Linked DNA regions of Homo sapiens. The protein of the gene in region 1 interacts with the protein of each later gene in a pairwise test. Each region holds a gene or a part of one and is shown in the gene's direction. Other genes may lie near its edges.

The links.
Region 2: the proteins of NTRK3 (region 1) and NELFB interact in a two-hybrid assay, tested with the Homo sapiens proteins (one study listed by BioGRID).

The regions. Positions count from the first base shown.
Region 1 is NC_000015.10:88,138,160-88,141,968, reverse strand, and holds part of NTRK3 (NT-3 growth factor receptor isoform a precursor), read left to right. Parts: intron 1-3,809. UniProt on the Homo sapiens protein: Receptor tyrosine kinase involved in nervous system and probably heart development.
Region 2 is NC_000009.12:137,265,159-137,268,967, forward strand, and holds part of NELFB (negative elongation factor B), read left to right. Parts: intron 1-718; coding exon 719-821; intron 822-1,172; coding exon 1,173-1,268; intron 1,269-1,785; coding exon 1,786-1,928; intron 1,929-2,081; coding exon 2,082-2,188; intron 2,189-3,809. UniProt on the Homo sapiens protein: Essential component of the NELF complex, a complex that negatively regulates the elongation of transcription by RNA polymerase II.

The DNA.
Region 1 (3,809 bases):
CCACAGTTCTTTTGCAGTTTCCCATAAACTCAGTTGGAACAAAGGACCAGGTTTCAAGGTGCATCCCATCTGCTGGATCAGGTCCTGTAAGCAGGACCCTGGGGGGAAAGGATGGAAGGAAGCAGAAAATTTGTACAAAGCCTTTGCCTGGCAGCATCCTTGGCACATCCCAAACATCTCACCTAATTCTCTGGCCAGCCTCAGGACATTCTCATGCTGTCTGCCTTTGGGGGGCCATGAGATGCTGGGATGTGCAGCAGTGCAGGGACCAGACAGGAGGCAGCACAGCATCAAGTGCTGTGTGGCTTGCGGCAATGCAGCCAAGCCCCTCGCCTGTCTAGTCTTTTCCACCCAGGTGGATAATTTGTATTTTTACACCTACTTAATAATGAATGACTGCATCTTGTCAAGTGAGCAGCTGGGAAAACCAGGCTGACCTGGTTCAGTTCACATATATTCAAGCATCTGGACCCTCCTTGTCATTCTAGCAGGGTGGCCAGGCCTCTCCTTGCAGCCCCTGCAGTGTGAGCCCACACTGCTCCACCTCCTCTGGCCTATCTTTCCTGCATACACTGGGCAGCTCATCTGGCCTTCTGCTCTTCTTGTCATGAGGGTTACGTGAAGAAATGCGTGGAAGACATTTAGTCTAGTGTTGGCACTACGGCAAGTGCGATGCTAATATTATGATCCTATAATGTCTATTATGTTCGTCTCATTTTTTCCTGTCTACCTTTTCTCTTTTCTGTGTCTCATGTCCAGCTACACAGACATCTTGACATAACCCCAAGGCAACACCTCCAAGGCTTCTTGACTTGATCCTTCCCTTTCCCCTTCTAGGACCTTGGTCTGTCCCTCCCCAGCCTCACCCCCATCCCAACCTCATTCGTAATGTGTCCTCTCTTCCTTTCTGCTGGTTCTTTTCTTTCTCTTCTGTTTTCAACCAAAGACAGTTCTCCCTGCCGTTGATTTCCTGTCTCTTGGAGCTTAAAATCTTGGGGTCATCTTTTGCTTTTTCCTCTTCTTTTATCCCCTACAAAGCACCACGTACCATTTTGCCTTCCTTGTGATGTTAACTGGATCTTCTCTTCCCTCTCTCCAGTTTTTCCCACTCCACTCTAGGCCCATATTAACTAGGCAGCAGTTCTCAAGTGGTGGTCCAGGGTGTCCTGGGGGGGCCCTAAGACCTTTTCAGGAGACAATGAAATAGAATCTGTTTTCATAGTAACACTGAGCCATTATTTGCCTTTTTCACTCTCATCCTCTCATGAGCATACCGTGGAGTTTTCCAGAGGCCACAGGACGTGATAACATCATTGCTCTGATGATGCATGGAGTTTGTGCTAATGTATTCTGGAGTTTTACATCTTTCTCAGTGTTAATTTCTAATTGGTAGATACTGATAGATATGACTCACATAAACAACAGCTCTTTGAGGCCGTCAGTAGTTTTGTTTGAGAGTGAATGGAGTTCTGAAACCAAAAGTTTGAGAATTGACCTGGACCCTGCCAGTCTATATGGTGCCTATGTGTGAGTTAGAAAAGATGCCCCATCTGGGTGCATGTAGCCACGTGCCAGGGTTACAGCTGGGTCTGGCCAAGAGTGTACAGAGTGGATTTTATCCTCTGTCTATCCCTTTGGTTGAGTACTTTGAGAAATGCTCAAACTACACAACTGTACGTGTTGACCCTGTGTTTATAAGCAATCTTAACCAGCTTCTCAATCTCTAGTTTTCCTCCTCTCCAGCTTATCCTATACACTATTGTTGGATTTCTCTTTTTACAGACCTCTTTGTTCACATTGTTCTCCAGTTCTAGAGGCCTCAATGGTTTTCCCTGCCTCCTGGATGAATTCCAAATTTCCTGATGTGGCAGTAAAAGTCCTCTCTTATCTGGCTTCCACTCGCCCTTCCAGCTTTGTTTCCCAGCACTCCTTGACACATTTTCTGTCCTGCTAAGCCTTTCTTTTCTGTTTTCACACCTCACCTACAACTTCCCTTTGCCTTTGTTACTTCCTTCTACTTACCCCCACCCCCCACACTCCCCCCCTCCCACCCCAACATGGTCTTTGCCTATATGAGCTCCTGAAGTCAGGGCTCCTAGCTTGCTCCTCTCTGCTTCTCTCTTGCACCCAGCAATGCCTTGCACATGACAGATGGGGTGGAGAGTGCATGAGTTTTGAAGTCCAGCACACTGAGGTTTGAAACTGTGCTGTCTTGCACACCAGCCAAAGACCTTGCACATGTGACTTAACCCCTCCAAACATCAGAGAGGGCCCCTCCCTCCTTGCAGTTCTGACCATCTCCCAGGGTTGTCGTAAGAAGCAAATGCTCAGTAAGGGTTAGTTCTTTCCCTTCACCTTTCTGACAGAGTACCATGTGCAGAGAGTACTTTTAGGCTAAGAGGATGATACCACATAGGGGTATTTGCACATTCTGCCTCCGGTGTCCTAGTAACTAGAAAGCACTGATTCTTTTCCCCAGGAGCCTCACGTTTTCCTGAAAGCTGATTAATTTTGATGCATGCTTAACTATTTTGGAGTTTTCCAGTTGTCAAAAATATCCTAGGTCTTAGTGCGGTGTGCCCAAGTGCCCCTCCCTCTGGTTTCCAACAGATTCATCTCCTTGATGGTCCAGAAAGAGAATCATGTTTCCTCTAATGATCCAGGCATTCAGATTTATCCGGTGCCCTTTACTCTGAGTTTTGGATTGATTAATGCTGTTCATTGTCTCCTTAATAATCCCATTGAGAGGGGAGGTGACTTGCTTCAAGTCATAAGGAAAATCAGTAGAGAAGGAAGTCCTTGAAGGTGACTCTTCCCCTATCAAACATTCTTCTTCACCAGGCTGAGTGCTCCTGGAGGACAGGGACTGTCTTCTTCATCTCTGTGTCAGCAGCACTCAGCCCATGGCCAATTATGGAGCAGGTGCTTATTAAGAATTTATTGAATTTATGAAAGAATAAAGCTGGTCCCAGGATGGGCTTTGAGCATATCTTGGAAATAGATAACCACCTACTCCCCCAGGGACAGTCAGTCAGTCTCGTTCTCTCTTTTTCTCTCTTTCCTTTAACAAGAATTTATATGCCAGGCTCAGTTCTAGGTTAGGGAATGAACAAAACAGGCAATGTTGCTGACCTCAATGGAGTTTAATTTTTATTCAGGGAGACAGATAAACAAACTAATTAAAAATAAATATTTAAAGTGATGCCAGTAGTGATAAATTCTAGAAAGACAAATATAGCATGGCAAGGGACTGGGCAGTGTTAGACTGAGAGAGCCAGCCTTGTAGAGATGTTGGGTAAGAGCTTGGCAGGCAGTGGAAACAGCAAGTGCAAAGGTCCTGGGGTAGGAACAAACCAGTCAACAGGTGACCTTGCAGACACCAAGGTCAGTGTGGCTGAAGAGGAGGAGGGAGTGAGGGAAGATGAGGTCAGAGATGATGGAGAATGGTGCAGATTATTTAGGGCTTTGACTTTGATTTTCAATGAGATGGAAGGCCATTGGAGGGTTTTAAGAAGAGGAGCATCTCGAGCTGATATCTCTCTCTTTTTTCTTTTTTCTTGAGACAGAGTCTTGCTCTGTCGCCCAGGCTGGAGTGCAGTGGTGCAATCTCGGCTCACTGCAAGCTCTGCCTCCTGGGTTCACGCCATTCTCCCGCCTCAGCCTCCTGAGTAGCTGGGACTGCAGGTGCCCACCACCACGCCCGGCTAATTTTTTGTTTTTGTATTTTTAGTAGAGATGGGGGTTTCACAGTGTTAATCCGGATGGTCTCGATCTCCTGACCTTGTGATCCTCCCACCTCGGCCTCCCAA
Region 2 (3,809 bases), on another chromosome or scaffold:
ACAGGCACACACCAGTGCGCCTGGCCGATTTTTGTTATCTTTAGTAGAGATGGGATTTCACCACCTCGCCCGGGCTAGTCTCAAACAAACAATCCACCGGCCTCAGCATCCCAAAGTGCTGGGATGACAGGCGTGAGCCACCACACCCAGCCTTTTTTTTGTTTGTTTTTTTAACTTTTTAATTTGAAAAATCTTTGAATAGGTTAAGGACAAATTGCAAACCTTAAGCTTTTTTTTTTTTTTTTTTTGAGACAGAGTCTCGCTCTCTTGCCCAGGCTGGAGTGCAGTGACGCGATCCTGGCTCACTGCAAGCTCTGCCTCCCGGGTTCAAGTGATTCTCCTGCCTCAGCCTCCCGAGTAGCTGGGACCACAGGCGACCACCACCACGCCCGGCTAATTTTTTGTATTTTTGGTAGAGACAGGGTTTCACTTTGTTAGCCAGGCTGGTCTCAGTCTCCTGACCTGGTGATCCATCCGCCTCGGCCTGCCAAAGTGCTGGGATGACAGGCTGAGCCGCCGCGCCCGGCCTGCCAAAGTGCTGGGATGACAGGCTGAGCCGCCGCGCTCGGCCATCCTTAAGCTTTTTGTAAGAAACCCAGCATGTGATGGGCACCCGCTGCCAGTCCTGAATTCAGCCTAGGCCACCCCTCCTGAGGACTGTGCCGCTGAAGGGAGGGGCAACAGGCGTCGCATTAATGCCAGGGCGGCCTCCTTCCAGGGACCTGTCCATGATCCTGTGTGACCCCTTCGCCATCAACACGCTGGCACTGAGCACAGTCAGGCACCTGCAGGAGCTGGTCGGCCAGGAGACACTGCCCAGGGTGAGTGTGGGCTTGGCCAGCAGCTGTCGGGGCCATGCGGCCACTCCGCTGGCTGCTCTGGGTGGTCAGGGTGTGGACAGCAGCGGCCAGGTGGAGGCAGCTGTTGGGGCCCTGTGGCCGCCCTGCTGGCTGCTCTGGTGGTCGGGGATGTGGACTGCAGTGGCCCAGGTAGAGGCGTGTGCTTCCCCGCTGTGAGACTGCGTTTCACCCCGTGTGTGGGGCTGGTGATCGCAGTCGTGTGGTCCTGGCCATGGGCACCAGAGATCCTGCTGAGTAACGAGTAGGGTCAGAGGAGCTCCATGGCCAGGACACAGCTGCCTGGGAGAGGCGCTGAGCCCGTCCTCCCTACAGGACAGCCCCGACCTCCTGCTGCTGCTCCGGCTGCTGGCGCTGGGCCAGGGAGCCTGGGACATGATCGACAGCCAGGTCTTCAAGGAGCCCAAGATGGTAACGAGCCTCCTGTGGGGGCTGCCAGTTTCCTACGAGGGGTTGTGGGCTGGAAGTGGGGTGGAGGGGGAGGCGCTAGCAAGGTGATTGTGGAGGCCCCTTTGGTCCCAAAGCTTCCTTCCTGGAGCTGCCCACCTTCCTTTTGGGAAAATGCCCACCAGGGAGGTTCTGGGGTGTCTCCGTGGACCCTGGCTGGTTCTGGGGTATCTCCATGGCCCGTGGCTGGTTCTGGGGTGTCTCCGTGGACCGTGGCTTGTTCTGGGGGTGTCTCCATGGACCATGGCTGGCCACAGGTGGTGACTACTCCATGTGGGTCCAGACCTAGAAGGGGGTTTGAGGAGATGGCCTGGGTGGGGGACTCGGGAGGTGGGAAGAGGGACCTGGGGACCTGGAGAGGAGGGAGGGTCGGTGAGGTATCTGGGGGAGTGGGAGGGCCAGGGGCAGGGTGTGTGTCACGTCAGGGTGGGGTGGGGCAGGGCCCGGGCCCGCGCCCGCTCATGGCCTCCCCTCCTCGTAGGAGGTAGAGCTCATCACCAGGTTCCTCCCGATGCTCATGTCCTTCCTGGTGGATGACTACACTTTCAATGTGGATCAGAAACTTCCGGCTGAGGAGAAAGCCCCAGTCTCATATCCAAACACACTTCCCGAAAGCTTCACTAAGTACGGGCTGTAGGGCCATGGTGCAGGGGTGGCCGTGGCGCAGGGATGGCACTGTTGCCCAGGGGGCTGCCTCAGGGCTGGGCAGGGGTCGGTGTGGGGCTGAGGTGGGGCTGAGGTGGGGCTGAGGTGGGGCTGATGGCGCCCCGGGCGCAGGTTTCTGCAGGAGCAGCGCATGGCCTGCGAGGTGGGGCTGTACTACGTCCTGCACATCACCAAGCAGAGGAACAAGAACGCGCTCCTCCGCCTGCTGCCCGGGCTGGGTAAGTCCTGACGGGCGGTGCCTGGCTGTGTCTTCCCTGCGGCAGCTGCCGTATGCAGTCCTGCCCAGGGTGCGGGCCCCAGGGCCCCCAGGAGCTGCCTTGTCTCCCCAGCCCACCTCCAACTTTGCTAGCTTTGTTTTCACCTTTTTTTTTTTTTTTTTTTTGAGATGGAGTCTTGCTCTGTCGCCCAGGCTGGAGTGCAGTGGTGCAACCTCAGCTCACTGCAGCCTCTGCCTCCTAGGTTCAAGTGATTTCTCGTGCCTCACCCTCCTGAGTAGCTGGGATTACAGGCGCGTGCCACCGTGCCAGGCTAATTTTTGTATTTTTAGTAGAGACGGGGTTTCTCCATGTTGGTTGGGCTGGTCTCGAACTCCTGACTTCATGATCCGCCCGCCTCGGCCTCCCAAAGTGTTGGGATGACAGGTGTGAGCCACCACTCCCAGCCTCGTTTTCACTTTTACTTTTGTTTGTAGTTTATTTTACTAGGAAAGGGAGAGGGAGTTCAACTTTGTGCTTTCCCACAAAAAGGTGATGTAAGAGCTGTCTTTATTTCATCCTAACTGGCGAGGGGCTTGGGACCCCTCAGGTGCTCAGAGAATGGAGCAAAGGGGAGGGAGAGAGATCCCCTGCCCCAGTGCCCCACCCCAGGTGGTGACAGGCCCACTTCCTCCTGGGGGCCTTGACGGGGGAGGGGTTGTTGCAAGCCAGGAAGAAGAGGAAGGGTCCAAATGGGCACCTTCAAGAGTAGAGCTGCAGGTCCCCTGGGAGATGGGGCCTCTTTAGCCTGCTGTGGGTCCCATGGGAGATGGGGCCTCTTTAGCCTTGCGGTACCCACTGTGACACAGACCCTGGGCTCTTCCTTGCTGACTCAGGCCTTGTCTGGGGTTTGCTGTCTTAGTCCACGTTATGCTGCTCTAACAGAGACTTGAGACTGAGTAGTGTAGAAAGGGCAGGGACGGCCGGGCACGGTGGCTCAGGCCTGTAATCCCAGTGCTTTGGGAGGCTGAGGCGGGCGGATCACGAGGTCAGGAGTTCGAGACCAGTCTGGCCAACATGGTGAAACCCTGTCTCTACTAAAAAAATACAAAAATTGGTTGGGCATGGTGGTGGGTGCCTGTAATCTCAGCTACTTGGGAGGCTGAAGCAGGAGAATCCCTTGAACCTGGGAGGTGGAGGTTGCAGTGAGTGGAGATTGCACTATTGCACTCCAGCCCAGGCGACAGAGCGAGACTCCGTCTCAAAAAAACAAAGAGCAGGGACTTCTCCCAGTTCTGCGGGCTGGGATGGGAAGTCCGAGGTCAAGGGGCCTGCATCTGGCTGGGGCTTTTTGCTGTGTCATCCCATGGTGGAAGGCAGAGGGCAAGAGAGCACGGGCAGGGGAGACAGACAGACACAGACAGAGATGAGAGACAGAGACACACAGACCAAGATGAGAGACAAAGATGAGAGACACAGAGACAGAGATGAGACACAGAGAGATGAGAGACAGGTAAGAGAGACAGAGACAGGAGAGACATGGAGACAGACAGATGAGAGACACAGGACAGAGACAGATGAGAGACAGAGCTAGAGATGAGACACAGACAGACGGAGACAGAGAAGGGGCCACACTTACCCTTTT